Regions from separate parts of the Homo sapiens genome. Here regions 2, 3, 4, 5 and 6 are each reported to be linked to region 1. Evidence: microRNA targets listed by miRTarBase, many of them from high-throughput screens and not tested one by one. Region 1 holds a microRNA gene; each other region holds the end of a gene's coding sequence.

The links. Region 1 holds the annotated microRNA hsa-miR-6794-3p (CUCACUCUCAGUCCCUCCCU, at 2,781-2,800, shown strand). A microRNA usually pairs through its seed, bases 2 to 8, with sites in the 3' UTR of a target mRNA and lowers its output. Matches are read on the target gene's strand: a 7mer-m8 pairs with bases 2 to 8, a 7mer-A1 pairs with bases 2 to 7 and ends in A, and an 8mer does both.
Region 2: the mRNA of ST3GAL1 is a reported target of hsa-miR-6794-3p. Seed matches in the 3' UTR shown: 7mer-m8 at 1,584-1,590 and 7mer-m8 at 2,494-2,500.
Region 3: miRTarBase lists GRK3 as a target of hsa-miR-6794-3p. Seed matches in the 3' UTR shown: 8mer at 2,480-2,487 and 8mer at 900-907.
Region 4: the mRNA of DGKH is a reported target of hsa-miR-6794-3p. The part of its 3' UTR that is shown has no 7-base or 8-base seed match.
Region 5: the mRNA of TSC22D3 is a reported target of hsa-miR-6794-3p. Seed matches in the 3' UTR shown: 8mer at 1,798-1,805.
Region 6: the mRNA of H6PD is a reported target of hsa-miR-6794-3p. Seed matches in the 3' UTR shown: 7mer-m8 at 1,166-1,172, 7mer-m8 at 1,123-1,129 and 7mer-m8 at 305-311.

What each region holds. Positions count from the first base shown.
Region 1 is chr19:12,849,526-12,854,613 of GRCh38, forward strand. MIR6794 (microRNA 6794) reads left to right here and starts at 2,735; the gene lies at 2,735-2,802. It overlaps MAST1 (microtubule associated serine/threonine kinase 1), which reads left to right. Exons shown (of 26, transcript NM_014975.3): 8 at 2,409-2,510; 9 at 2,590-2,722; 10 at 2,803-2,870. RefSeq lists an enhancer at 2,664-3,164.
Region 2 is chr8:133,455,417-133,460,504 of GRCh38, reverse strand. ST3GAL1 (ST3 beta-galactoside alpha-2,3-sialyltransferase 1) reads left to right here. Exons shown (of 10, transcript NM_173344.3): 10 at 568-5,088. The coding sequence ends at 741. Among named protein-coding and RNA genes, the nearest start is that of ST3GAL1-DT, 110 kb to the left of the region's middle.
Region 3 is chr22:25,721,580-25,726,667 of GRCh38, reverse strand. GRK3 (G protein-coupled receptor kinase 3) reads right to left here. Exons shown (of 21, transcript NM_005160.4): 21 at 1-4,379. The coding sequence ends at 4,218. Among named protein-coding and RNA genes, the nearest start is that of MYO18B, 18 kb to the left of the region's middle.
Region 4 is chr13:42,228,637-42,233,724 of GRCh38, reverse strand. It overlaps DGKH (diacylglycerol kinase eta), which reads right to left. Exons shown (of 30, transcript NM_178009.5): 30 at 1-4,626. The coding sequence ends at 4,537. Among named protein-coding and RNA genes, the nearest start is that of AKAP11, 41 kb to the left of the region's middle.
Region 5 is chrX:107,710,052-107,715,139 of GRCh38, reverse strand. TSC22D3 (TSC22 domain family member 3) reads left to right here. Exons shown (of 3, transcript NM_198057.3): 3 at 391-1,919. The coding sequence ends at 621. Among named protein-coding and RNA genes, the nearest start is that of TSC22D3, 63 kb to the left of the region's middle.
Region 6 is chr1:9,264,305-9,269,392 of GRCh38, reverse strand. H6PD (hexose-6-phosphate dehydrogenase/glucose 1-dehydrogenase) reads right to left here. Exons shown (of 5, transcript NM_004285.4): 5 at 1-5,088. The coding sequence ends at 4,524. Among named protein-coding and RNA genes, the nearest start is that of SPSB1, 26 kb to the left of the region's middle.

The sequences.
Region 1 (5,088 bases):
TGGTGGCACGTGCCTGTAATCCCAGCTACTCAGGAGGCTGAAGCAGGAGAATCGCTTGAATCCGGGAGGCAGTGGTTGCAGTGAGCCGAGGTTGCGCCACTGCACTCCAGCCTGGGCAACAGAGTGAGATTCTGTCTCAAAAAAAATAAAAATAAAAATAAAAATAATTAGCTAGGTGTAGTGGCACACACCTGCTGTCCCAGCTACTTGAGAGGCTGAGGCAGGAGGATCACTTGATCATTCATTAATTCCACCAATATTTATTTATTTATTTATTTTATTTTTTTTGGAGACAGAGTCTCACTCTATCCCACTGGGCTGGAGTGCAGTGGTGCGATTTTGGCTCACTGCAACCTCCACCTCTCAGGTTCAAGCCATTCTCCTGCCTCAGCCTCCCGAGTAGCTGGGATCACAGGCACCCACCACCATGCCTGGCTAATTTTTGTATTTTTAGTCGAGGCAGGGTTTCACCATGTTGGCCAGGCTGGTCTCTAACTCCTGACCTTAGGTGATCCACCTGCCTCTGCCTCCCAAAGTGCTGGGATTACAGGTGTGAGCCACCATGCCTGGCCCCCACCAATATTTATTAAGCACCTACTATGGGCCTGGCACTAGCCTAAAAGCTGGGAAATCAACTGGAAATAAAACAAAAATTCTTGTCTTTGGAGAGCTGACATTCTATTAATAGCAGGAAGAGACAGAAGATAAACAATAGGCGTTAGAAGCTAACCCCTGTAATCCCAGCACTTTGGGGAGCTGAGACAGGAGGCTTTCTGGAGCCCAGGAGTTGCAGACCAGCCTGGGTAACATAGCGAGACCCTGTCTCTACAGTAAAACAAGTCAAACAAACAAAGACCCAATAGGTATTAGGGCTGAGACCAGGACCAGGGTAAAGCAAGTAATTATTTCTTCCCCCAGAACATTAAATTAATTTTTGAAAAACTTGAAAAGTAGATAAATGAAAACCCAACATTATTTTAAGTTTACATATTTTATTTATAACCAAGCCAGAATGTGTTATAATTTTACTGTCCTGGTTTTAATGAAAGCAAACTCATCAATAATACTATTTTCATTGAAACCATTAGACATTTTCAAAGACACATTAAAACACATATAGGTTGGTGCATACTTTTTTTTGGCTCAAGTTACAATATGGCTAGGCACAGCCTGTTGGATTCTGTCTTTATTTAATTTTCTTTTTCTTTTTCTTTTTCATTTGAGATGGAGGACTCTCTATGTTGCCCAGGGTGGTCTTGAACTCCTGGGCTCAAGCAATCCTCCTGCCTCAGCCTCCTGAGTAGCTGGGATTATAGGCATGTACCACCACATCTGGCTTAAATTTTGATATTTTGGCTTATGATAGATTTTTGGCATTAATTTTAGGCTTTTCAAGTATTGCAATAAGATATTAGTTTTTTCTTTTCTTTTTTTTTTTTTTTGAGACAGTCTCACTCTGCTACCCAGGCTGGAGTGTAGTGATGTGATCTCGGCTCACTGCAACCTCCACCTCCCTGGTTCAAGCGATTCTCTTGCCTCAGCCTCCCAAGTAGCTGGCATTACAAGTGTGTGGCACTATACCCAGCTAATTTTTGTACTTCCAGTAGAGATGGGGTTTTGCCATGTTGGGCAGGCTGGTCTCAAACCCCTGACCTCAAGTAATTCACCCTCCTCTGCCTCCCAAAATGCTGGGATTACAGGCGTGAGCCACTGTGCCCGGCCTCTTTTTCTTTTCTTTTTTTCTTTTTTTTTTTTTGAGACAGGGTCTCTCTCTCTGTCACCCAGGCAGGAGTGCAGTGGTATAATCAGCTCACTGCAGCCTTAGCCCCCTGGGCTCAAGTAATTCTCCCACTTCAGCCTCCCAGGTAGCTAGGACTACAGGCACACACTACCACACCTGGCTAATTTTATTATTTGTAGAGACAGGGTCTCGCTATGGTTTTGTTGTTTGTTTGTTTGTTTGTCATTGCTTTTGTTTTGAGACAGAGTCTCGCTGTGTCACCCAGGCTGGAGTGCAGTGGTGTGATCTTGGCTCACTGCAACTTCTGCCTCCCAGGTTCAAGGGATTCTCCTGCTTCAGCCTCCCAAGTAGCTGGGATTACAGGCACCTGCCACCACGCCTGGCTCATTTTGCGTTTTTAGTGGAGATGGGGTTTCACCATGTTGGCCAGGCTGGTTTCAAACTTTTGACCTCAAGTGATCCACCCACCTCAGCCTCCCAAAGTGCTGGGATTACAGGCATGAGCCACCGTGCCCAGCCTCATTATTTTTACTGTGTGGCTTGGGCTTCAGTCTCCTCACCTGTAAGATGGGACAGTAGCAGCAGTATGTACTCTGAGGGGCTGAGAGAGGGGCCGGGCTGAGGCAGAGTGCCTATGAGCCCTGTCCCTCTGTGTCCCCTGCCACAGGCCTATGAACGCTCTGAGAGCTTGGAGGTGGCCTTCGTTACTCAGCTGGTGAAGAAGTTGCTTATTATCATCTCACGCCCTGCGAGGCTGCTGGAGTGCCTGGTGAGGGGGCTGGGCATGGGTAGGGGTGGGTTGGTAGACCCTGGGAGCCTGTGGTGAGCCCACTCCTGCCCTGCCTCAGGAATTCAACCCCGAGGAGTTCTACCACCTGCTGGAGGCGGCCGAAGGACACGCCAAGGAGGGCCACCTTGTGAAGACGGACATCCCCCGCTACATCATCCGCCAGCTGGGCCTCACCCGTGACCCCTTTCCAGGTGCCGGCTGGTGGGCGCAGGGGGACTGGGGGTGAGCAGGCCCAGAACCCAGCTCGTGCTCACTCTCAGTCCCTCCCTAGATGTGGTGCATCTGGAGGAACAGGACAGTGGTGGTTCCAACACCCCTGAGCAAGACGATCTCTCTGAGGTAAGGCTGGGTGGCTAAGCGGTCAGTACCCTGGTTCCTGGGAGGGCAGGGTGGGGCTCATCTCCGGCTTCTTTGCCCTCAGGCTTTGTGGATCTCTTGGTCCTACACTCTGAGCCTCAGTTTTCCCATCCATAAAATGGGATTAATAATAGCTCTTCCAGAGCCTGGCATGCTGGCTCATGCCTGTAATCCCAGCACTTTGGGAGGCCAAGGTGGGCAGATCACCTGAGGTCGGGAGTTCGAGACCAGCCTAACCAACATGGAGAAACCCCGTTTCTACTTAAAAAAAAAAAAAATGCAAAAATTAGCCAAGCCTGGTGGCACATGCCTCTAATCCCAGCTACTTGTGAGGCTGAGGCAGAAGAATCACTTGAATCCAGGAGGCAGAGATTGCTGTGAACTGAGATTACACCACTGCACTCCAGCCTGGGCAACAAGAGCGAAACTGTCTCAAAAAATAAAATAAAATAAAATAAAATAATTGCTCTTCCCCTGTGACCTCTTTGTCATGTTAAAATCCATGAAACATAAAATTTAATTTACTTTTTTAACCATTTTATTTTATTTTTATTTATTTATTTATTTATTTTTTGAGATGGAGTTTTGCTCTTGTTGCCCAGGCTGGAGTGCAATGGCACTATCTCAGCTCACCACAACCTCCATCTCCTGGGTTCAAGCAATTCTCCTGCCTCAGCCTCCCGAGTAGCTGGGATTACAGGCATGTAACACCACACCCGGCTAATTTTGTATTTTTAGTAGAGACTAAAATTTCTCCATGTTGGTCAGGCTGGTTGCAAACTCCCAATCTCAGTTGATCTGCCCATCTCGGCCTCCCAAAGTGCTGGGATTACAGGCATGAGCCACCGCGCCCGGCCTTTTTAACCATTTTAAAATGAACAATTCGGGGCCGGGTGCAGTGGCTTAGGCCTGTAATCCCAGCACTTTGGGAGGCCAAGGCAGGAGGATTGTTTGTGCTAAGGCATTTGAGACCAGCCTGGGCAGCATAAAAAATCAGCTGGGCGTGGTGGTGCACCCCTGTAGTCCCAGCTACTCGGGAGGCTGAGGTGGGAGGATCCTATGAGCCCAGGAAGTCAAGGCTTCAGTAAGCCATGATCACACCACTGCACTCCAGCCTGGGCAACAGGGTGAGACCCTGTCTTGAAAAATGAAATTAAAAATAATAAAGAATAGGCCAGGTGCAATGGCTTATGCATGTAATCCTAGTACTTTGGGAGGCCAAGATGGGTGGATCACTTGAGGTCAGGAATTCGAAACCAGCCTGGCCAACATGGTGAAACCCCATTTCCACTAAAAATACAAAAAAATTAGTTGGGCGTGGTGGCACATGCCTGTAATCCCAGCTACTTGGAAGGCTGAGGCAGGAGAATTGCTTGAACCCGGGAGGTGGAGGTTGGTGTGAGCCAAGATCCCACCACTGCACTCCAGCCTGGGCAACAGAGCGAGACTCTGTCTCAAAATAATAATAATAATAATAATAATAATAATAATAATAATGATTAATAGTAATAAATAAACAATTCTGCAGCATTTAGTAATTCACCATGCTGTACAGCCATTAGATCTATGTAGTTGCAGAACTTTTTTATCACCCCCAAAGGGAAACCTCACACCCATTACACACTCCCTCCTCATTCCTCCCTCCCTGCAGTCCCTGGCAACCACTAATCTATTTTCTCTCTCTGTGGAATTGCTTTTTCTGGATATTTCTTTTTTTTTTTTTTTTTGAGACAGAATTTCACTCTTGTTGCCCAGGCTGGAGTGCAATGGCGTGATCTCGGCTCACTGCAACCTCCGCCTCCCAGGTTCAAGCAATTCTCCTCCCTCAGCCTCCTGAGTAGCTGGGATTATAGGCATGCGCCACCACACCTGGCTAATTTTGTATTTTTAGTAAAGACAGGGTTTCACCATGTTGGTCAGGCTGGTCTCGAACTCCTGACCTCAGGTGATCTGCCTGCCTTGGCCTCCCAAAGTGCTGCGATTACAGGCGTGAGCCACATGCCTGGCCTTTTTCTGGATATTTCCTATAAATGGGATCGTATGCTCTGTGGCCTCTTATGACTGGCTTATTTCACTTAACATAACGTTTCTGAGGTTTATCCATGTTGTAGCTTGTGTCACTGCTTCATTCATTTTTATAGCCGAGTAATATTCCATTGAATGGTAGATGCATTCATCCACTGGTGAACATTGGGTTGTC
Region 2 (5,088 bases), not on the chromosome of region 1:
AGGGCGCCTGGACCAGATGAATGTTGGCCACAGAGAAGAAAGGGATCAGCCCTGCCCTCTGCCTCACTGCAATCATGATTCTTGGACCCATTTTCCAGATGAGGAAAGTGAGGCTCAAAGAAGTGACTTCACATGCCCAGGGCACCACGGAGTGGCAGAGCTGGGATTTGGGGCAGTTTGCTTGGCCCCAAAGCCCTGCTCTCCTTCCACTCTCTTCCATTCCACGCCCTCCTTCCTATTCCTTCCCTCTGTAGCTCCTCAATCCTGGGAGAATAGGTTGCACTTGCTGCAGAGGTAAGACCCGGGCCCCTGAGACCACCCAGATGCAGTAATCTCTCAGGGTGCTTCTGGAATTAGACTTGAGTTTTACTTAACTTGCATTTGCTTCACCAAGACTCTGAGAGTTCCAGGAACGTAGAGAAGGGTTTTTAATGAAGGGTTAGTCAGAGTCCTTGGAAATGCTGTTTATGGTCCTGTGGGATTCCAGGAACGCCTACAGGCTTCCTTTCTCAGAGGTGCCACCAGCAGCCCTGCTGTCTGGTTCTCATCTTTGCTTTGCTCCCACAGGTGGACTTGTACGGCTTCGGGGCAGACAGCAAAGGGAACTGGCACCACTACTGGGAGAACAACCCATCCGCGGGGGCTTTTCGCAAGACGGGGGTGCACGATGCAGACTTTGAGTCTAACGTGACGGCCACCTTGGCCTCCATCAATAAAATCCGGATCTTCAAGGGGAGATGACGCAGTGAAGGGCTGAGGATGGACGCACTGTCACACCTCTGCATTTCCAGCCCCAGCATCTTGCTGGAGCCGTTCCATCCCGGAGCTTGGAGGGGCAGCCTCAGGTGTGTGCCTGGGCACCGCTCACAGCCTCTTGCACCCAGCCGTTGGCAGCATCTACTCAGCAAGGTCACTAAGCTCTGCCAGCGTGGCAGAGCATGTCTTGGAACCTGTCTTGAGTGGGGACAACGTCCCCCCACTGCTGCCCTAGAGCTGGGGAGACGCTGGGAAAGGTTCAACCTCCACACACTAAAATCATTTTGGCTCCTGGGGCAAGCTTGGGGAATGAATGTGGAAGATGCCTATATTCTGAGAGACAGGACAGTTTCCCAGGAAGATGGGCAGAGACTTGAGTGGCGATTACCTCCAGCACAGAGACGTGCCAGGCGGTGTTGGCGCTCGGGGCGAGATGCTGCCCTTCTTTGCACGAAGCCTGGCCTCTTGCTTGGCGTGATAACCCTGTCATCTTCCCAAAGCTCATTTATGAGCCACCAGAGGCTCCTACCCCAAAGATTTTCACAGAAACTTGAGGCCAGGTGCCGTGGCTCACACCTGTAATCTGAACACTTTGGGAGGCCGAGGCGGGAGGATCACTTGAGCCCAGGAGTTCAAGACCAGCCTGGGCAACATAGTGAGACTCCTGTCTCTACAAAAATAAAAGATTTAAAAAAATTAGCCAGGCACGGTGGCACACACTTGTAGCCCCAGCTACTAGGGAGGCTGAGGAGGGAGGATCTCTTGTGCCTAGGAGTTCGAGGCTGCAGTGGGCTGTGATCACACCACTGCACTCCAGCCTGGGCAACAGAGTGAGACCCTGTCTCTGAAAAAAAAAAAAAAAGAAAAGAAAAAAAACCCCAAACTTGGCACCGTGTTTCTGACTCCTGCAGATGCCTCTTCCCAAGCAGTTGTTCCTTTGAGTAGTCAGTCTCATGGTTCTAATCGTGGCGAGAGCGGATCTGACCACTTCCATGTGCCTTTGTATTTGGGAAAGAAAAGCATGCATTGGCTGAAATGAAACAAAAGCCCTTACTTGGGAAAAGGGACCCCCACCAGCGGCCCTGCTTGCTCCGTAGCTGGGAACATCTTTTCTGGTTTCCTGAGCCAGCACCTGAATTGCAACGAAGCTCTGAGGATACTCAACACCACCCAGCAGTGCGTCAGAATGGAACGTACATTCTCATTCTCAGACTGTTCAATATGGTGCCCGTAACCTCCAAAGCCACACAGGAGGCTGCCAGCAGCATTTTCCCCAAGGGCCTGAGCTCAGGGTCAAGTCCCTGCTGGCCATCTTGGGGCTGTCACTGGGGGTCTGGGTCAAGGACATCCCAGGAATGGTAACTGCCACATACCTCATCTTCTTACTCCCCAGCTACTCTCTTTTCCTCATTAGCCTTCCTGATTATTTATTGATTTCTTTTTTTTATTCAACTGACATTGTTTGCACCCTGGCTCTGTTGGTGGTCCTGGTGTTTTAATGAAGCTTGCCTCACCCAGTAGCTGGGAAATTAGGTGGGGGTGCTTAAGGGAGGTTTGTAGGAGTCCTCGGACGTGGGATATTGGGGGTATCTAGGGCTTGGATGGTTTGTGGAATGTCCTCAGCATCCTCCCGTCCCAACCCAACCTTCCTTCTTCCTCATTGTGGACTTGGATTTATTCTCAGGCTAGGAGTCTCCAAAACTCCGTGAAACCTTATTGCTGCTGGGTGTGGAGTGGAGAGTGACAGGAATGTGGGGGACGGTGATTGTTGGCTCCAGTTACTAATGTTTAAGCAGAAAAACCACTTTCTTGTTGAAAATATCCCTGAAAAGGTCGCTGCTGCTTTGAGGAGGCGTGACTTTTTCCTGGTGGAGTGTGACGGAGGCATGGGGCCTGTGCTCCCAGGCTCGGGGGAGCCCCCTCTGCACACGGGGAGGGAGGAACTTGGGGACATCAGTCATGGGTCACAGGTGGCTTCAGGCCATTCACAAGAGTCCCCGGAAGTTGCGTGCCAAGTTTGGTTTTTTCCCTGAATCTCTGCATATGAGCATTTTTCTGGAGAAAGGACCATAGCTTTTATTAGATTCTCAAAGGTTCAGAATGGGGAATGTGTTAAACAAACCGAAAACCTGTTTCAGCTTTAAAATCCTCCAAAACTTTAAAGACTTTTCTTTTTTCTGAGAAAGGCTGGTAAATCACTGAGTCATCATTCAGAACATACAGCCTCGAAGGGCAGAGCTCACACCCATATATGACGTTAAGAGCTCAACAAATGTTTGTTGAGTGACTGAGTGACCCCAGGGGCAGACTCCAGATCATCAGACACTGATACAGAGAGCGATGCTATCTCCTCAACTCTCCCTCTTCTCCTAAAAGCTGAGTCTATATAGGGATGACAGGCTCAGGCTGAGCAGTCGACTTCTCTGGGTTTTGCTGTGTAAGAATAGGTCCCTCAACATGAAGATGTGTCTGCGTCTGAGCCAGATGCTGCCTGGGTCGGTTGCCTGGCCTCCGTCTGGTCTCCCTCCCTCCTACTAGGGTGGTCAAGCTGTGAGATCTCTTCCAGCCTCCAAATCCAGCTTTCCCATTTTACTGATGAGAAAATCAAGGCCACATTGCAGCTGGGTGGGGAGTGGAGCGTGACAGGCACGGGAGAGGACAGCGATTGTTGACTCTAGTTCCTGATGTTTAATCAGAAAAACCACTTTTCCTGTAGAGCACATTTCCTAAAAGGCTGCTGCTGTGTAGGGAGGTGTGGCCTTTTCCTGGTGCAGTGTGAAGGAGGGAAGTGACGGGCAGTCGTGAACTGTCTGGGACAGATAGCACAAGTCAGAGTTTGAGCAAAACTAGGGTGTTACCGGCGCTATGTTGAAATTGTCTGGAGGCGGGCTTTCCCAGCGAGTCTCCATTCAGCATCTGGAAAAAGTGTAACCAGAATGGAGGTGTCTGACTCTCCTGTGCTCTCTCAGCGCCGAGCTCTAGCTGCAGGCTGCCTGGGTGGCCTTCTCACACCCTCCCGTGCAGGAGACTGCATTTCTCTTTCCCACAGCCCAGCAGATAGCTCATTGGCTTAGCAATGGGCACTTAACAGAATCCAGTTGTTGCAGCCAGAATTAAATGCACCAGTCTGGCTTAAACCAACTGGAACTCATCCCTGGGGTGAAGGTGGCTGGGAATTAGACAAGAGTGTGTGTTAGCCAAAAGGCACATGCATGCTGTCAGCAGGAGAATGAGGAGCACTGGTTCTGGGCAGGCAGTGGCAGGGGCTCCCTCAGGCCCCTGATTCCCAGCCCACAGCTCTTTCTACTCTGCAGACAGAGTTCCTTGGAGACTGGCCCTGCATTCAGGCAGGGAGCAGAGGGGTCCCTGCCTGCAGCACCCAGAGCTGAACCTGAAGCTACAAAGATGGGCTGATGAGGTGGCCCATGAGGTGTCAGCAACATCCCAACCCCCTGGGTCTCCCCAGTGAGTCAGGGCACTGATTTGCTATAGCTGGAGCTACATGCACCTCTCCTCCCCTCAGCCACCTTTTAGGGGAGAAAGGAGGGCAGATTTGTAACCTCTGGTTCTCTGCAGGGATCCTGGGCTGGAAGAAAGTTCATAAATGGATGAATGCCTTTTAAAACTCCAGCTTTTCCAAGCATCATTCACCAAAGCATTTGGTTAGGCTTAGAGAGAAAAGCTGGATATGAGAAAATAGAATGTAAAATAGGAGGGAAAAAAAAAAAGAAGGTGGAGAGGGCAGTTAAGATCTGGGTGATTCTTTAGGGAAACGGCTGGTTGAGAGGCTTTGATGGAATCCCATTCTCTGCTGTGGCCAGAAGGTGGTGCTAGAGGCCAGTCCCACTTGGATGTGACCCTGGCCTCTGCCAGGATTCAAACCACAAAGAACATTTGGAACTGGGATGTTTGCTTTGAAGCAGCCCGAAAACAAGTGAAAGGAAACCAAGATAACTCTCTCTCCCTCCGCTGGCAAGGATCAAAAATACCTTGTGCAGGGAAGCCCGAGCCTCGAGGGGCCACTGCCCAGCTAAAGATGACTGGACACCAGCCATGCACCATCAGGAACCAGCACCTGTCCTCACCCCTGAGAAGAGCCCCGGGGGTATCATTATATCCATCGCAGACATCTGGTTTGCAGCAAATGTGGCTACACGCCATCAGGATTATCCTGCCCTGTGGACTGGGCTAGCTAGTTTTGAGATAGAGTCAACCTCCCCATTTTTGTTTGTCATGAAAACACCAGCTCCTGCACCCCTGGGGTGCTACCTGACACCTGTGCAAAGAAAAGGAGGAAAACTTAGAAGAAAAGGCAGAGACAGGCAAGACAGC
Region 3 (5,088 bases), not on the chromosome of region 1:
CAGTTATTTCCTTGGTGCTTTATGGTGTAATGATTTTTACCAGTAACTTCTTTCTTCCTTCGCCCGATTTCTACCACTATTCTCTTTGTGACACCCAGCCCAGCCCCCACCTGTCACAGATCCCAGTGAAGCCCAAATCATCTCCCAACAAGTCAACCCCTCACTCAGGGTGGGAGGTGTTAATTCATCAAGCATCTCTGAATGACACAGAAACATTTCCCTGAACGTAACTGAGACAACACTGCATATGATTAAATCATACAAGATAACTCTTATCTTACACCAGCACATTTCAAAGCATTTCTATAGGTTTACATCATGCTAAAGAGGCCAGACTTTGAGAACGTTGTTTTCTTCTTGATATGTTAAAATTCTGAAACATTAGAAAAATCAATTCCACTGAAAAGTAAAATGTGTTGAATTGGCCCAGCTACAAATTCCGAGTGAAATTTTAAAAAGCAGAGAAAAACCACACTTTGATCTTTTTAATCTAGTTAAATCCCTGTCGTCAATTGGTAAACATTACTTTGTAGATGACCAGTGTGGCCTTCAAACAGTCGTTTCTAATATCTGTATATGGCATATGTCAGACCAGAAATCAAGCTACATCTTGTTTGCAACAAACAGACCATTGTTTGTTGCTGCTGCTGTCTTCAGCAAAATGCTTCCTTTCCTCAGTGCATCTCACTGGATATTTAGCCCCCCTCCTTTTTTTTTTTGAGACAGAGTCTCGCTCTGTCGCCCAGGCTGGAGTGCAGTGGCGCAATCTCGGCTCACTGCAAGCTCTGCCTCCCGGGTTCATGCCATTCTCCTGCCTCAGCCTCCCAAGTAGCTGGGACTACAGGCGCCCGCCACCACGCCCGGCTAATTTTTATTTGTATTTTTAGTAGAGACGGGGTTTCACTCTGCTAACCAGGATGGTCTCAATCTCCTGACCTCGTGAACCGCCCCTCTCGGCCTCCCAAAGTGCTGGGATTATAGGCGTGAGCCATCGTGCCCGGCCAGCCCCTTCTTTTTAAACATAGGACCTGAAATTGTCACGTCAGTGAATGGACCAATCAGAGGCATGAGCACTTTGCATGAATGGTGACATAATAAGCTGACTTCTAGAAGTTTTGTTGAAAAATCATACTTAAATATGACAAAGAAGGAAAACCAATGAGCCCCCATGACATGAGGGGATGAATGAACCAAAGAGAATGTTTTAGGTTAAAAATAATAAACCTGAATTCACAAAGGTTTTTAATTTATTCCATATATATCTTACATAGCAGCTTAAAGTAATCTATTATTTTTAGGCTTTATTGATTCTTTTGAATCATGAAATCAAGACTTATTACCGCATGATTTTGTAAAAATATCAACCTCAATTATTTTTCTCATCAATGTTAAAATATCCCAACCACAGGAATCTAAAATAATGAAAAAAAATAGGCTGAATTTTGACCTTTTTAATAGTTGGAGTGTAATAAGGGTGAACATCTAGGAATTATGTAATACTTGGAAAACCTTCTAAAACATCCAAGTACTATGGCTGGGCATGGTGGCTTACATCTCTAATTCCAGCATTTTGGGAGGCCAAGGAAGGAGGATCACTTGAGCCTAAGAGTTCAAGACCCCATCTCTACCCAAAAAATAAATTAGCCAGGAAAGGTGGCATGCACCTGTAGTCCTAGCTACTCAGGAGGCTGACGTGGGAGGATTGCTTGAACCTAGGAATTCAAGGCTGCAGTGAGCCATGATCATCCCACTGTTCTCCAGCCTGGGTGACAGAGCGAGGCCCTATCCCAAAAAATTAAAAAATTAAAAAAAAACAACAGCCAAGTATACCATGATGTTTAATCCAACTGACTTTTCCTCTGGCCATGCAGGCAACCGGGTGCAGACACAGCGGTATCCTGTGTCTGGTCGCAGAAACACCTCCATCACAACATTTTGGCAGAAGGCACTCAAACCAGACCCCAACACAACTGGTGACCGCCCTCAGAAACAGCTCAATCTAGTCTTACAAAGCACTTTTAATAAATGACATCTAGATGTACTTCTCAACCATATCATTACAAATCAAATGTGAGTTGGGGAAGTGTAAAAGTTTACACTTTTGTTTGAAGCAAAAGGACTTTCAGAGCATTTTCCAATTCATATATCTTTTCTAAAAGGGAGTGGAGCCTTATGTTCTATTCTTAGAGCAGAAATTCTAGTTTTTGAAAGAGATGCGGATCAGCTCAATTTTAGAACAAGTATGGGAAAGTTGAATAATCTTTCTGAACACGTTTGTGCAGCTCACGCCCTAGGTACGAGATATTAGACGCTAAGCCCAGACCCTGGTGGAGTCAACAGCAGGCCCTTTATCCTGGAGATCTAGAACAGGCATGAGGCCCAGCGCATCCTCAACTGCACATGCTGAGAACCTATGAGCTTGAGATGCAGACGGGAACGGCATCAGTCACAGCTATAATTAACCAGGGCTGGGAAGACATTCACTCTTTAAGAACAATGGCTTTTCTGCTTCTGGAGTGTGTGTGTGTGTGTGTGTGTGTGTGTGTGTGTGTTTCAACAGAATTTGAATACTATTCTTCCTTTTTAAATAAGGAGAATGCATGTAAGTAGTACATCCCTCCTCCCACACTGGAAATAACAGATAGTAGAAAATGTATGTTAATTTAAACCCCAACTAGTAGTTGAGATAGACAAAAAAAAAAACCCACATTTTTTTTTTTGCAAAGTAACTCTTATGAAATAATGGACCCTTTTGGTAATTATCTTCCAAACTCTCAAAATAACTGCATTAAAAAGTACTTACTTTGCCCATGAACACAGCAAACAAATACAAAAACAAAGATTTGGAACTGCTAAAAATATCAAGGACAGGATGCAGACAATTACGATGTCAAGTTATTTATACTGTTAGTAGTTAATGTAAAGACATACACTAAAACTACTCCAAGAATGGGACAAATACGTGGATTTGTAAAATTTTTTTTTTAAGACTGATGACATGGGGGATTTCGCTGGTTCTCATAACCCAGCATCTATTTGGGGGTATCAGTGGGGCCTGGAGGCAGTGGGAGAAAACAAACTTCACAGGGCAGATGCTGCTGGGACCAGGAAAAAGGCTTCATGCCCTAAGGTCCTCACTGTCGTACAGCCCAGTGCAAAGTATCATTCATTCATGACAGATGCATGACGACATGAAAGTCAATATACACAGTTAACCCATTTTGACACATTCATTCCTCAGCATTTTTTCAATACAATTCATCTGAAATTATACTAAGACATAAAACAGACCTGCTTTTGTACATCCATTACTGATATGTCTCCCAGGGTCAGGCAGAAGGAACCAGAATGACTGTCACACAACTGCTAATTGTCGAGACCTGAGACGGACTCACCCATGAGTGCTCCTGCATGCCAGGTACTGCTTGTCGACTCGTGCACACTGGACTCAAAGACTTTTGAAAACTGCTCTTGCCCCTGAAACCTAAAACTCCACGGCCTGTCCTTCAGAATCACTGTAAATCTTTCCAATGATGGACGGATGAATGCCTTCAATGATTAGTTAATCCCATACACTTGGATAGTACGTGTCCGTCATTCCCACCTGGCTGAGGGGGCCCCGGAACAGACTGGTCAGAGGCAGGGCAGTCATGTGGGTGCGGCTCCCAGAGGAGGGCCCAAGTGCAGAAATATCTTCAACTTTTAATATCATCAGAAAATATCTTCAACTTTTAACCCCAGGACAAGAAGTCAGTTGCGAAGTGCACAAAAGAAACACACTGTGGCTCTCCCATCCCCCAGCAGTATGGAGCAAAGACATAGAAAATCAGCAGTGACTAGACAGAATATGTGGCAATGCTTAGGGCAATCTGTTACCCAACACTGAACATCTTTAAATTCCATTCTGGGGAGTCTAAGATGTGTTTGATATCAGACATAAAAATTTACGTGATAAGTAGGAGTCACTTCAAGTTCTAGGTTCATAGGTACCAAAGTGTGTAGCAAAGAAAAAGAACTTTTATTTCTTCAGTAGTTTCTAATGCAGACAAATGTGACAAGGCAGGGAGCTGAGCTGACCCCAAGCCGAAGGGTCCCGACTCCTCTCGGGAGCCTGGAGGAGTCCCGGTAGCGAATAGATCAGATGCCTCATCCTCGTTCACCCCAAAAGGCTGAGACCCTGGTGTGTCCTCCTCGAGGACCCTCCCTGTTTCTGGGTGCTAGAGGCCGTTGCTGTTTCTGTGACAGAGGGATGGCTTTGGGAGCTCCACAGTACCTGACCGAGGTTTGTTGAGGAACTTCGGGGCACGACGCAATAGCCGCTGGGCCTCCTTGAAGGTTTCGTTCAACTCTTTCTTCCACTGCACAAACTCTGGATCACTCTGAGGGGGAATACAAAGGCAGCCGTTGTGACAGGCTCACCCATTTTGCCAACAGCGGAGGCTGCCCCTATTGATTACCAGCGTCCCTGGAACCCCTGAAGGAAGCACACCCTACGTGTCCACCCCCAGTGGCATTACTAGCTGATGGGTCACGCTGCCACCTTCTCCAGAATCTCTTGAAAAGAGCAGGGAAAGGCCACATTAAAACCCTTCAGATGATTCCAGTACAATCCCACTCTGAGAATCACTGCCTTTAATTTGTTTAGAGATTACTTTTGATTTCTAAAACAACTGAAATCTATAATAATATAGGGGAAGGAGTTTTGACAAATTAAAAAATGTTTTAAATATATATTCATGTATGTAATGTAGTACTGATGTTAGTAAAAATGATTTTTTTGCATCTAATACGTGTTTATTTCTCTAAATATGCTCTCTTAAAACACACACACTAGTGAACCAGTCACAAAGTGTCCAGGAATGAAATTTGTGTTACAATGTAACTTTGAGGAAAAGATGGCATTTTCGTTTAGAGAAGATGGCATTTCAGTTTGCCGTCTTATATTTATCTAAATATATAAACCTTAACATCGAACATGCCGAAAAATCTTCAAAGTTATAGAACAAATAAAATTCCAGCCCTATTAAATACTGAGCAGATTTTCCAGATAGAGTAATGACATTATTTCACCTGCATCCTCCTGCCATT
Region 4 (5,088 bases), not on the chromosome of region 1:
TTGTTAGTGACTTAGAGGTGGAGGGAGGGCTAGAGAGAGGCTAGCTGTGTTGGTCTGCCAATCTCCTGTGTCCCACACTGGCTACAAAAATACAACCACTGGGTAGGTAGGGCTCATCTAGAACCAGAATTAGGAATAAGGATTGAGAAGAAAACTCAGCAAGGGTGATGAATGAGTTTCAGCTCATTGCTGGAGTTAGCTGAAGAATGAATAGGACACAGTGGATGAAGGAACAAGCTATTCCGGGGACCTTTTGAAGCCCTCGGACCTCACATCCCTAATAGCTAAGGAAGGATAAAATGGATGTAGGCCAGTGCTAATCGTTTGAGAAATTTTGCTAAAGGAAGATTTTGATTCGGTAGATCTGCAGTGGGCCTGAAATTCTGCATTTCTGTAAGCTCCCAGGTAATATTGATGCTGCTGGCCCATGGATCACATTTTGAGTAGCAATGATCTGCACCAGTGCTGTCCAATAGAATTTTTGCAGTGATGGAAATTTTCTACATCTGCACTGTCCACTATGGTTACTGAACACTTGAAATGTAGTTAGTGCAACTGAGAAATGGAGTTTCTAATTAAATTAATTTTTTTAAAGAGTAGGGGTCTTGCTCTGCTGCCCAGGCTGGAGGGCAGTAGCATGATCATGGCTCACTGCAGCCTTGAACTCCTGGTCTCAAGCAATCCTCCCACCTCAGCCTTCAGAATAGCTGGGACTACAGGCGCATGCCACCATGCCTAGCTAGTTAAAAAAATTTTTTTTCAGAGACAGGGTCTCACTATGTTGCCGAGGCTGGTCTCAAACTCCTGGCCTGAAGCCATCTTCCCTCCTAAGCCTCCTGAGTCACCGGAATTACAGGCTTGTGCCATTATGCCTGGCTTAATTAAATTACATTTAAATTTAGATAGCCACATGTAGCTACAATATTGGACAGGATAGATCTAGACATTCATGGGTCATTTCTTGTCAGCAAGAACAATATATATCACAATCCCAAATGACCTAATCCATCAATTCACTTAGATTATCCAGCAAGTATCCTTTTACAGAACGCAAACTGTAAAATTAGTGTCTTTAAATTGTTTTCTTCCTAACACTTAGTTAAATGACCCACCATGTATGCTTAAGCGAGAAATGAAAGGGGTCATTTTGTAGTGGGTTAATTGATGGGGAAAGGAAAGTAGAAGGCAGTGAGAATTTCAGCAACCATGATTATATTGGGCATTGGGAAAATGAAGAGCCAGGATGTAGGAAAGAAACTCAGAAAGGGAGGTGAAGAGACACTAAAGAGAAATATTGCATACTCAGGAATTTTATTTAGGTCTGATTCTGTCCCTTTCCTCCTTTAAAAGCAAGTTCTTCCTCAGGAAATGGAACTGAAAGAAAATACATTCTGGCTGATGGCCTCCCCTTCCCTGCCCTCCCACCAGCCCCGATCCTCCAGGTGAGGAAGAGCCTATCAGGGAGAAGAGGTGACAATTCCAGCCATTACAGTCATTGCAGTCAGGTGCAGGTGGGAACTTCTCACCCCAGCTCATGCATAGATCAAAGCATAGAGGCCCCATCCCACTCCCCAAAGCTGTGATCTGATCCCATGGAGAAGCTCTTCCCTACTTTTTATTTTTTTTGGTAACCCCATCCGCTATAAGAAGAGGAATTATTTATGATACTGACAAGAGCCTAAGGAGGCTCTGAAGACCCCCTCCTGGAAACAGGTGTCAGTGAAGTCATTTGGGCCCTGCACAGCCATGCATAGACAAAGCATACAGAGAAAATTGCTCTCATTTAACAAAAAGTATATCCAAATTGTCATTTTATAGAATTTCCCTCATCCAAAGCCATTTGCAGGAAAATTCTAGCTAATTAAGGATTCCATTAAGAGACTCACGCTCTACCAACCGAGCTAGCCAGAAATGCACTGTAGGATTCCATTAACTGAGACTTTACAGCATATACAAAAGATGTCACCTACGAGTGAAAAGCTCACCAAACGAACAAACAAAAATTCAGTCCTTCACATCACACTCTTAAATTTGGGACACATCATAGCTAGACTCTTTTCTATTAGCAAAGGGGAATGGGGGGTGAAAATCAATATAGATATTTATATTAATACATTATTTATGCTAGAGTTCTTCCCCTTCTTTCCCTCACATTTCCTTTTTTTAGTAAAGATGGACAGAGATCTGTAATGTTAGAGAGTTCTGGGAACCTGGCACCTCCTGTTTGGTTGCACAGGAAAGTGTTCACAGGAGCAGGACAGCACTTAGGTGGGACTATCAGAGGGACTGAAAAAGGAGACCTCTGACTTCGTAAGTGCAGATACAATTAGAATAATTGCATAATTCATGACTATTTTTTTTTGAGATTGAGATGGGAGTCTTGCTCTGTCACCCAGGCTAGTAGAGTGCAGTGGTGTGATCTCAGTCACTGCAACCTCCATCTCCTGGGTTCAAGCAATTCTCCTGCCTCAGCCTCCCGAGTAGCTGGGATTACAGGTGCGTGCCACCACACCCGGCTAATTTTTGTATTTTTAGTAGAGATGGGGTTTCATACACTGGTCAGGCTGGTCTCGAACTCCTGACCTCCGGTGATCTACCCACCTAAACCTCCCGAAGTGCTGGGATTACAGGCGTGAGCCACAGCACCCTGCCTCATGACTTTTTAAACTACTTGATATAACTGTCTTTGGAAAATTTCCATTTATTTACAACTTAGGTAAAATATATAGTCAGACATACTTGGTCAGGAATCCCTCAGGGTCATTTATTTTAAAGACATTAAAATTTTGTGATTTTTACTAGTAGTTAAATACCCAAGTTATAAACAAGAGTAAAGTGTCAAACAGTTAAACTCCTTTGATGTAATTAAATAATATGCCTGACAATAGTTCATTTTAAATGCTCGCCTATTAGTATTTCTCTTTAAACACTGGGGAAATAATTGTCTAGAAAATATCAATGATGCCATATCACAAGGTTATATGTATGTAGGTATATATATACACATATAAATGTATATGTGTATGTATGTATATATACACATATATGTGTATATGTATATATCTGTGTGTATATATATCTATTAAGCACCTAGCAGGCTACTTCATAAAAATTGTCACCACTGAGTCAGTACCCTGTTTATTTCTCTTATATACAAATTTTAAAATATTATAATTAATGTTTTGGTATATAATGGCTAAAGAAAGCTTATTTAAGGATATTTTTGTGACTTTTTGATACGTATGCCTTTGGCTTTCAAAGATTTGATCATTGTAATGTTGACTTCTAATAATAAGCTACACTGAAGTACAGTGGTTTAGAAAAAGGAAAATAATATCCACCTGATAAGAATTAAGAATTAAGTGAGATAATAATAATAACAACATAAAGCCCTTAAGAAAAAATTTAAATCCCTTCTGTTTGGAAGATCGTGTCAGAAGTCACTGTAGAGAGCGGGTGAGTCTGGGTTATCTGTCAGTATATAAATCTCAGTTGACACCTCAGGGAATTCCTGGATATCAACACTTTACTATATTATAAATTCAAATAGAATATTAAATAATTATTAAATTGAAATTAAAAATTAGAAACAAAATGTGGAAATTTTGGTTTGGAAAGCTGTAACAAGTTTTGTCAGGTAAGGGAGCATGTAATTTTATGAAAATATCCAGAGAATTTTCTTAACGTGCACGCCTACTGCTTATGATAGATTGAAATAAAATTGACTTGCATGTGATGTATATCATTTGTTGATTATGGCACAGACACACTTTCACAAAGTCTTAGGTACAGAATATTTACGCAAAATCCCACATTAAAAAACAGAAAAGTGCAGTGCCCTTAACCAACAAAAATGTACTTTAGTAATAAATTAAATCCCATTAACATTAAAACTGACATGAAAGCTATTTAAAGTGTTACAGTATTAGATGTGACATGCAAGAAAAAGAAAGACATTTCAGGCAGGAACATCGTGCATTAAGATTTGCATTCATTCATAGTATTGGAAAGGTTTTCAACATATTTGACCACTAAGCACTAGGAGTTGGAGGTGATACCAATCTACATTCAAATCACAACTTAATTTATATTTTAGTCTCCTAACCTATGATTTTAAGAAAATGGCCAATGCCCCCCCGTAATGAAACCTAGGAAGTTTTAACCACATATTGTTATGCAGTTGCACAGTAGGAACATTCCATCAGACCAGATCTATGGAAAGTAAACATTTTGCAATTCCACTGTTTAGACAATGCAATCGTCTCAGATTCCTCCTACCTTATTACCATTGTGAATATATTTGAACATGTCAGGTTTGCACAAAAAGAAAATGGCTTTGTGGAATGTATTGTTCGGCACAAAAATATTTTCTAATACCTCAAATCAAAATTTCACCCACAGCAAAATATCAAGCCACAGAGGTGCTTCAGTGGTGCTTACTTATCTATGCAGAAAACTACAAGAACAGCCACTTGCTTCCAAGGACTTTGTATTAAGTGGCAATAACTTCTCTTCCAAGAAATAGCACCAATATGATTACACCTCCGACTGTGGAGTGCTCCTTCCAAGCTCTTTAATTCCCTGGAGAATTCGCTTCACATGACCCACTTTCGGTATCCCCAGATCCTAAAATAAAAGAACAGAAAAAGGTAGAAATAATTAAAAATGAAAGAAAAAACACAGAAAGAAAATTTTAAAAATGAAAGAAAAGGAAAAAAGTTTATTGAAAATAGAAAATTGGGGATTAAATATTTAACCAGCAAGAAACATAATTAGCATTCAGTTCATTCATTTTAGTTTATATTCAGTGATTCAGGAAGTGAAAGCTAGAAAAATAAGTTCATAAAACAAAAATAACCTGACACCAAAGAATTCCCAACTGGTACAAAAAAAAATCACATTCTACATAAACTCTTAACTGTGACATTCTCATAATTATACACAGTGGCTTTTGACTTCAAAAGTCAAAACCAATTTAGTTTCTTTCTTTCTCTTTCTTTCTTTTCTTTCTTTCTTTCTTTATTTCATCTCTCTCTCTTTCTTTTCTCTTTCTTTCTCTCCCTTTCTTCTTTCTTTCTTTTCTTTCTT
Region 5 (5,088 bases), not on the chromosome of region 1:
CCTTCCCCCAGATCTGGATCGGCAGCAGTAGGGGCTTATGTAAAAAGGGGGACATAGCAAACCACTGGCAAACAGCAGAAGTGTCACCCCAAAGGCCCCTCAGCAGCCAGCTTTGAAAGTCATTAGAAACTTGCAGGGGAGAACCTATCTAGTTCAAAGCTGGGCTCTCAACTCCAGCATAAGCCAAATCATGTAGCTCTCCTGAATGAGGGTTTAAGTGCTTCAGAGAAAGGTGAACGAGGAATTGGACTTGCCAGACCAGTTCACTGAGGGAAGGCTGGAGGGCCCTGGCATTAAGGACAGCACAGGCACACCAATGACAGAGCAAAGGTGCTGCAGAGGGGCCACGATGGCTAAGGAATGGCTTTGTTATGATTCCCTCATTGGCAGGATCTGGTGAAGAATCATCTGATGTATGCTGTGAGAGAGGAGGTGGAGATCCTGAAGGAGCAGATCCGAGAGCTGGTGGAGAAGAACTCCCAGCTAGAGCGTGAGAACACCCTGTTGAAGACCCTGGCAAGCCCAGAGCAGCTGGAGAAGTTCCAGTCCTGTCTGAGCCCTGAAGAGCCAGCTCCCGAATCCCCACAAGTGCCCGAGGCCCCTGGTGGTTCTGCGGTGTAAGTGGCTCTGTCCTCAGGGTGGGCAGAGCCACTAAACTTGTTTTACCTAGTTCTTTCCAGTTTGTTTTTGGCTCCCCAAGCATCATCTCACGAGGAGAACTTTACACCTAGCACAGCTGGTGCCAAGAGATGTCCTAAGGACATGGCCACCTGGGTCCACTCCAGCGACAGACCCCTGACAAGAGCAGGTCTCTGGAGGCTGAGTTGCATGGGGCCTAGTAACACCAAGCCAGTGAGCCTCTAATGCTACTGCGCCCTGGGGGCTCCCAGGGCCTGGGCAACTTAGCTGCAACTGGCAAAGGAGAAGGGTAGTTTGAGGTGTGACACCAGTTTGCTCCAGAAAGTTTAAGGGGTCTGTTTCTCATCTCCATGGACATCTTCAACAGCTTCACCTGACAACGACTGTTCCTATGAAGAAGCCACTTGTGTTTTAAGCAGAGGCAACCTCTCTCTTCTCCTCTGTTTCGTGAAGGCAGGGGACACAGATGGGAGAGATTGAGCCAAGTCAGCCTTCTGTTGGTTAATATGGTATAATGCATGGCTTTGTGCACAGCCCAGTGTGGGATTACAGCTTTGGGATGACCGCTTACAAAGTTCTGTTTGGTTAGTATTGGCATAGTTTTTCTATATAGCCATAAATGCGTATATATACCCATAGGGCTAGATCTGTATCTTAGTGTAGCGATGTATACATATACACATCCACCTACATGTTGAAGGGCCTAACCAGCCTTGGGAGTATTGACTGGTCCCTTACCTCTTATGGCTAAGTCTTTGACTGTGTTCATTTACCAAGTTGACCCAGTTTGTCTTTTAGGTTAAGTAAGACTCGAGAGTAAAGGCAAGGAGGGGGGCCAGCCTCTGAATGCGGCCACGGATGCCTTGCTGCTGCAACCCTTTCCCCAGCTGTCCACTGAAACGTGAAGTCCTGTTTTGAATGCCAAACCCACCATTCACTGGTGCTGACTACATAGAATGGGGTTGAGAGAAGATCAGTTTGGGCTTCACAGTGTCATTTGAAAACGTTTTTTGTTTTGTTTTGTAATTATTGTGGAAAACTTTCAAGTGAACAGAAGGATGGTGTCCTACTGTGGATGAGGGATGAACAAGGGGATGGCTTTGATCCAATGGAGCCTGGGAGGTGTGCCCAGAAAGCTTGTCTGTAGCGGGTTTTGTGAGAGTGAACACTTTCCACTTTTTGACACCTTATCCTGATGTATGGTTCCAGGATTTGGATTTTGATTTTCCAAATGTAGCTTGAAATTTCAATAAACTTTGCTCTGTTTTTCTAAAAATAAACTTGGTGTCTGACTGAGTATAAATGGACTGGGTGGGAGAGGCCCCTCACCCAGTAGGGGCTGTTTTGCTGACCCCCTGAATATCCCTTGAGCACCCTGTCAGTGCCAGGCCTATGCTGCAGCCGTGATCTCGTGTCATCTGCACAATACTCATATGAAGGACATGCTGTTTGCCCTCACTGTCTGGATAAAGAAACTGAGACTCAGCGAGTTTAAGTGACTTGCCCAAAGTCACATGGCTATTACGGGAATTAGGACTCAAGCCCAGATCCTTCCTCCCTCTCCTGCTCCGCTTTCATATGAGAGCTTCGGAGTGAGTGGCAAGGTGACTCATAACACACAACTGTAGCTTGAGGGGGTGATTTGGGAGGAAAGATACCCCGAGGAAGGCCCAAAAGAAACAGGCAGGGTATACATAGGAGGGAGCGAGAAGAGCGGAACCAAATCAACAGGCGTGGGCCTCTTCTGTCTTCTGAAAACATCACTGGGCTCACTTAATGCATTCTCCTTAATACCAATCCACATGTGACACTTGACTTGGCAAAGGAGCTAAGAAGGCTCTAGTAAGAGAAGGAGGGAGAATGTATGAGGTAGCAAAACCACCCCCCTTTCCTTTGCTCTTCCCCTTACTTCCAGCCAAGGAAAGATATCCTCAGTCCCTGCTGAAAGTTCTCAGGGACACTGCTGAAAGTTCTCTCACCAAACCCACCAACCACGTGGGTAGGGCCAAGTCTAAGGCTCCTGGCTCCAGATTCCTTCCTCCACCTCTCTTTGGGGTTCATTATCACCCATCACCCTTTCCCAGCTCCATGTCCCCAGCATCCAGAGACCTAGCATTTCTCTGATTGGTTGTTGATGAGTGCTTAGTGTCTCCTTTACCACGCCCTAACCTGAACTTCCTCTGGACCCTGAGCTGTGTTCTAAGCCCACTATGTTCCCAAGGGAAACGATCACCTCTCTTCAAGTGACTCCATTCCATCTCAGCTTCTGGTAGCATATATACCTATCCTTTTCCCACTTGAAATTGGGGAAACAGAACTCCTTGATTTTCCTGAGCCACAAACCTCAGGGTGACCAAGATATCTTGCCCCCCGCCCCTTACATCAACCACTGCCTAAATGTAATCAAAATGACATGCTTCTTCCTCTGTAAAGGTCATACATGTTGACATTTTGGGTTTTTTTTTTTGGTTTTTTTTTTTGAGACAGGGTCTCACTCTTGTTGCCCAGGCTGGAATGCAGTGGGGCCATCAAAGCTCACTGCAGTCTCAACTCCCTGGGCTCAGATGATCCTCACCTCAGCCTCCTGAGTAGCTGGGGCTACAGGTGTGCACCACCACTCCTGAATATATATATTTTTTTGTATTTTTAGTAGAGATGGAGGTTTCGCCATGTTGCCCAGGCTGGTCTCGAGCTCCTGGACTCAAGCAACCTGCCTCCTTGGCCCTCCAGAGTGCAGGGATTATAGGCATGCGCCACTGCACCCAGCTGACCTGTTCTTTTCTAATCACCAAAACCCTTCAGAACATTGCAAACTCCTGCTTGCTGGCCTCTCAAATCCCAATTTCCCCACCTGCTCCCAACCTTGCTATTCATAATGCCAGGTTCATTGTCTATACCTGCCAACTGGTTCATGGCATGCAGATTCCACAGCTGCTGGTACAGATACAAACTTCAAACGAGTGCATTCAAAGCCCCCTGGCAGCCATTCCTCACCCTGACCAGCTCTCCCAGTCCCCACTTACTCCCAAATCCCCACCTTTCAAAATTAGCTCAGAGACTTTGTGGCTATTTGGTTCATCTTCTGTAGACTTCCCATGCCAGACTTGCAGCTGAATGAGAAAAAGCAGATGAAAAAAGGAAACCTAGAAAATAGCCCAACAACGCCCCAAACCTCTCTGGTCATCAAGCCTTTCTCTACAAGAAAGGGGAAAAAACTGGCCCCACAGTCACATAGTGGTAAAGAGAGAACAACTTTGTTTCCTAGGCAACGCTGACTAAACAGAGACAAACACTGCAACTTCTGAGGCCACAGCAGTTACTAGGCTAGATAAGAGGAAGTTTGTAGATGTTTCTTAGTCACATACAGGAGCTGCTTTCTGTTGTTGTTTCTCCACAGAAAAGTGACTAAGGGTGGAGGAAGGCAAAAGAACACGTTGCTCCTGGAAAGACTTCCATGGGTTTTAGGCTTCTGGGCTCAGCTGGTCCAGCTGGACCCAGAACGAGGAAAATAATAATGAGGCTTGAAGGAGTATGCATCCCCTGCCTGCTTTTGCCACCTCTGCATGTGCCCTCCCATCTATTCTCTCATCTCATCCTCATGGAGGCTTCCCAGCATAGCAGCAAGGATCACAAGAGCACTGCTCCCTGGCCCCGCTTCCGAGTACAAAACATTCTGTTTCCTGCCCTTAGAAAAAGAGGCAGTTATGATTTACCTCCATTTGACAGACGAGAAAACTGAGAGCCAGAGAACTTAGTGCTACTCCCATGGCTCCCACATGTCCCATGGGGCAGTGGTTCCCAACCTTAGTGACAATAAGGGCCCTTTTTTTATGTCAAAAATATTCTCAAACCTCCCCCAACTCTATAGTACTTGAACTTTTGGTATTCATTGAGAGAGAAAGAGAGACTCGGGTGGGCGGGGCCGGGGGGGGGGCGGCAGGACACATAATTACAAACACTGGCTGTGAATTCAGTGGGCCTTAAAGGAATTAATTATATTCACTACAAAATCAAAGACATGGATTTGAAAGCTAAAACAACAATGCATATATTAATTAGCTAGATTGAGCCATTCCACAATGTGTATATATTTCAAAACATCACAAATGCATACAATTTTAGTTGTGTCTGTCAATTTAAAGAAAAAGTAGACTAGAACAGAAATGTGGGTGATGGGTTATTTCCAGACAAGGACTGCTTGGGACACAAAGTGTGAGGCTTTCAAGCTGGGGATGGCCACAGAGGAGGGTGTTCCAGGAGGGCTCCGACAAGGAAGCCAGGGGCAGGGCCTCTGGGACCTGGAGTATCAGCAGAAGGACTCCAGAAAGACCATAGGAAAAAAGGTGCATGATCCACTGTCCTTTAAGGTATTGTGAAGTTGGCTGGGTGCAGTGGCTCACGCCTGCAATCCCAGCACTTTGGGAGGCCAAGGCGGGCAGATCACCTGAG
Region 6 (5,088 bases), not on the chromosome of region 1:
ACTCGCTGCCAGGTGCTGGTGAGGCTGGAAGAACTTCCTTCCTTCCTATGTACAATGCAAACAGTGCCGCTTCCAGTGCTACCCACACGGGTGCAGCCTCACGGGAGAGTTGCGGAGAGAGGGAATGCGTTCAGTTCAGCCAGCGGACGGCCAGGGGTAAGCGGCCCCTAGTGGGTCACATGGCCTATGATGTCTGGAGACCGCAGATCTTCACCCTCTGGAGTCTCATTTGCAGAGTCTCATTTGTCGTCCGGTCACTGTGGCCACCTCACCCTCGTCACCACGGGCCTTTCCTGTGCCGTGCTCACTCTGACACTGAGATGCTGCCAGGCAGTTTTTTTTTTTTAAATCAGTGGAGTAAGTTCTAAGGGAGCCCCATGTGCTTAAGATAAAAACGTAGCTGGTAAAGTGGAGGCAGAGGCTGCTTCTGTGAGGCTGCATATATCTTACAGGACAAAAAGTTTTGTACTTGAAAACCAAATTCTGGGAAATAGCCCTGCAGGTTTTTGGGAAGCGTCTCCCTCCCTGTCGTGAGTTCCACCTGGGCCCTCCGGGAGAACAGGGACAGGAGAAACACAAGCAAAGCAGACAGGCCCGGAATTGGGAGCCTGAGCCCTGCATATTTTGGAAGGGAACCCCTCGAGGGACTAGTCTGGAATAGTAGGCCAAACGGTAGGAAGCTTTGATTACTCTGCTAACTTGGGGGCCCAAGAGTAGGGCTAAAGCATTGTCTGCAGAGAAACAAACAGGGAAATTCAGTAAGAAGGGCCTATTTTAACTTGCAGTTAGCAGGAGAATTTGTCCCCAGATTTTGATCTAGCTTAAAGTCCCTTGATTCCTTCCCCTCTACAAATGGCAATCACGGTTGCCCTAGAGATGCTGACTGACAAGGTCTCCCAAAGGAGGGGCCCTTCTGCCATTTATGGGCCCCTAAGTGCACACGTGGGCTTCCATGCGGATGGAATCATTGGTCCCCACCAGGGAACCTGGACTGTGGGAGCTGCCGCCACCATAGGACCCAAGGGCTTCCAGACCAGGAAGAGGCAAACAGCCTGCCTGGGAACACAGTGCTGGAACTTGGGACTTGGGTTCTGAGCGGGGCTGCTCCCTGGGCTGTTGTCATCACTCTTTCCTTTTTTTTTTTTTTTTTTTTTGAGATAGGGTCTCACTCTGTTTTCCAGGCTAGAGAGCAATAGTGCAATCACACCTTACTGCAGCCTCAGTCTCCTGGGCTCAGGTGATCCTCCCACCTCAGACTCCCGAGTAGCTGGGACCACAGGAGGGCACCACCATACCTGGTTTTAAAACTTTTTGTAGAGATGGGGTCTCACTATGTTGCCCAGGCTGGTTTCAACCTTCTGGGCTCAAGTGATCCTCTCACCTCAGCCTCCCATAGTGCTGGGATTACAGGCATGAGCCACACCTAGCCCAATTTAGTGAATTTTAAGAAGCATTTTAAAAAAATGAAAACTAAAACATAGAGGATATCCGAGGTTCTAAGGTTAAGAATTTCTTTATGAAACCTGCTTGGAACACAGTTGTAAACAAATGGACTGATTTATGATGGAAGGCACGTTTCTTGCTGCAGATCATGGTCTGAAGTTTGAAAGCCACCAGCCTAGAGGGTTCTGAAAACTTCTCCTTCCTAACACAGCTGAAGGAAAAGGGGTGGGTAGGGGCGGAGGCACAGGGACATCTCCAGGTTTGGACTTTTCCAACATGATTTGCAGAAGGCACTTGATTCTGGAAAGTAGACCTTTGGCATTTCGACCCTCACCCACACTCCCACACCCACTCTGCACAGATCGGTGGTGCATCCGAGGCAGGGCTGAGTTAGAACAGGACATCCTAGACTCGGCGGCAGTGACTATTATTCAGAAATGGCACATCAAGGGCCGGCCTGCCCTTCATCCTGCAGGGGTACTTGGGCATGTGGAGGCCCCTTTCTCCCTGGTGTTGCAACTGGAGAGGAGTCGGTTCCTGAAGAACAGATGGGAGAGTGCTGGGGCCAGGTACCCTGGGAGAGAGGAGGGAAATGAAATCCGGCACAGGGGCTGCGGGGATAGGGGCAGTCAGGAGGCGGCAGTGCGGTGCAAGGGCCCCCCCACGCGGCCAGCTGTGGAACTTCCACCACGACTCCCTGTCCTCTCCTGAGCCCGCCCATCACGTGTAGAAGCTCAGATGCTGGGCGCCAGGAGGGCGGCTTCCTGGCTCTGGGCACCGTGGTTCTGTCCTAACGAGGGGCGCTCTCTGGGTGTAAAAACAGATGTTCTGGCTGGGCGCGGTGGCTCACGCCTGTAATCCCAGCACTTTGGGAGGCTGAGGTGGGTAGACTGCCTGAGCTCAGGAGTTCGAGACCAGCCTGGGCAACATGGTGAAACCCTGTCTCTACTAAAATACAAAAATTAGACAGGCATGCTGGCCGGCGCCTGTAGTCGCAGCTACTCGGGAGGCTTAGGCACGAGAATTGCCTGAACCCGGGAGGTGGAGGTTGTAGTGAGCCAAGATCTCGCCACTGGGCTCCAGCCTGGGCGACAGAGACTCTGTCTCAAAAAAAAAAAAAAGAGATGCTCTGTCTGGCCTGGGTTGTTGTTGGTGGCCAGAGTAAGTGGTGTGAACAAGAGCCCCGGCTTGGGAACATGTCTCAGACTGGCATTGAAAATGAAAGCCAGGATTCCTCTAAATCCACCGCCTTGAAGTGTAAACAGTCCAGAGAGAAACCGACTTTGCCATGCTCCCTCACCCAAGAAAGCCCTCTCTCAAAATGCGCTAGAAAGTTTATATCTGCCTGATCCAGAGAGCAAGTGGAAGGTGCGGAGAAGCCAGACAGAAAAATCGACCTTAACCAAGAGTTCCATCTCCCAGCCTTAAGTTGTGGGATACTGAACAAACAAAACTACACATGTCCTGGGAATTTTGCTTTGTGGTGTTTTTAAAAAGAATGTCAGAGCCCTCCTTGGGGGCTTCAGAAAAGCAGGTATTGCTGGCCCATGGCTTCTCAAGATCACAGTCCCCAACCTATGCTCACTGAGAAGATACCCGCTTACTTCCCCAGTCTCAGGCAGAGAGTTCGTGGTGAAGTGATAAGTAGCAGGAGAGGCCAGCAGACAGGAAGCCACGGGGTCACCAAGGGGCAGGGAGAGAAGGCCTGGCTGCGGCCCCGTCACCCGCCAAGCGAGCCCCTGAAAAGGCTGTGGGCAGCCCCCCTGCCAGTGAGGCCTAGCTCCTGTCTGGTGGGAGCAGAGCCGCCTGGATGGCCCAGTGTCACTCGATGCTCCATCTCTCTCCCCGCTAATGAGCTGTCACCTCAGTGGGTGATTTAACTGGATCTTTCCTGGTAAAACAAGAGGGGCTATTGAGAGCGGAAACACCCATCCGGGAGTCCCCTGAGATGGAAATGACCCTCTTAAATTGGGGATCTCTGGAATGTCCTGATTATCTGCACCCAGTGTGCTTCCTGGAGGAAGGCTAGCAGGACAGAGGAGCAGCGGAGGGCAGGGGTCCTCCCTGAGGAAGTTGGGGGAATGAGACCCCACCTCCCCACGCAGAGCAAGTCATCAAATGAGAAATGGAGCTCCAAACAGCACTGAGATTTCTGGGGCTGGGCGCAGTAGCTCACACCTGTAATCCCAGCACTCTGGGAGGCTGAGATGGGAGGATCGCTTGAGCCCAGGAGTTTGAGACCAGCCTGGGCAACATAGCAAGAGCTCATCTCTGCAAATATTTTTTTTAATTAAAAAAGAAAAAAGATTTCTGGAACCCTTTCCACAGTCTAGTCTTTGCCACTGTATTCCTGTTATCAGCCCTCATTCTCTATAAATGGAGTCTGAAGAACAGCAAAGACACAGGGAGGAGCCTGGAATTCCTACTGCACAGCCAGGATGGAGGAGACAGGGATGGCAAGCGGGAGCAGGTGGAGGCAGTGAAGAGGAGGGCCAGAGGCTAGATGTGCAGAGGTTCTAGAAGGAGGGGCAGCTGGGGAAGGAGGGGCTTGACCCCCTCAGGGTCTCAAGACAGTCCCCAATGCCCCTGCTTTGCACGGGGCAATGTACTCCCCTGGGCGCCTCTGCACCCTTCTGTCTACCAATCATGCTCTGAATGTTCCCCGGGAGCCAGTTCAAGGATCACCTCCCCCAGGAAACCTTCCCTGATTAACCTCAGCCCACCACGTCACGTCTCCTCTTGTGAACGCCGGAGTTTGGGCGCCATCCCGTGTTGTGCTGGTTGATATGAATGTGTAACTGCTGGAGGTCTTTTCTTAAGACTTCTCTCCTGGCCTGAATTTGAAGCTTCTCAGGAGCAGACTCCATTTCTTCCTTGTTTCTGCATCTATCCACCAATACACAGAGCTGCCGGTCAAAGGCATCGGGACAAGGCTTGTCCTGCCCTCTCTGGGGCCTGACTGTGGGATAGAAGGTTCTGGAGAGCCAGGGCACGCTGGGCAGGTGGCGGGGCCGAGAAGGGAGGGAAGACACGGGCGAAGGAAAGCACAGGAGCGAAGCGGGCAAGGGGCACAGGCGCCCTCATCCCAGGAAGGCGTCGTAGTCCATGTACCACACCAGCTGGCCGGAGTGCGGCAGGACACCCGAGATGGGCCACTTCTTGGGCTCATGGCCCACCCGGCTCACCAGCGTGGTGATCTCACGCTTCATCCTGCCCATGACCAGGACTGCCACCTTCTTGGCGCGGTTGATGAGAGGCAGGCTAAGGCTCATGCGGCGGTGTGGCTGGGAGGGGCTCGTGGTCAGCACGACCAGCTGCTCGCCATCCAGGCCAGTGGGTGACTGTGGGAAGAGGGAGGCTGTGTGCCCGTCGGCACCCATGCCCAGCAGCACCAGGTCGAAGCTGCTGTTGGCCACCAGGGCTGAGATCTCCCTGGCATAGATCTGGGCGCCCTGGTCCTCCTCGGCGCAGAGCCGCTGCTGCAGGTGCACAGGCATGGGGTGGATGTTGTAGTAGGGGATCCGGACGTGCTGCAGCAGGTGGGCCTGCAGGCCCTGGAAGTTGGACTCCGGGTCTGAGAGTGGGACGCAGCGCTCGTCAACCAGCCACAGGTGCGTGTGGGCCCAGGGGAAGCCATAGTGCGCC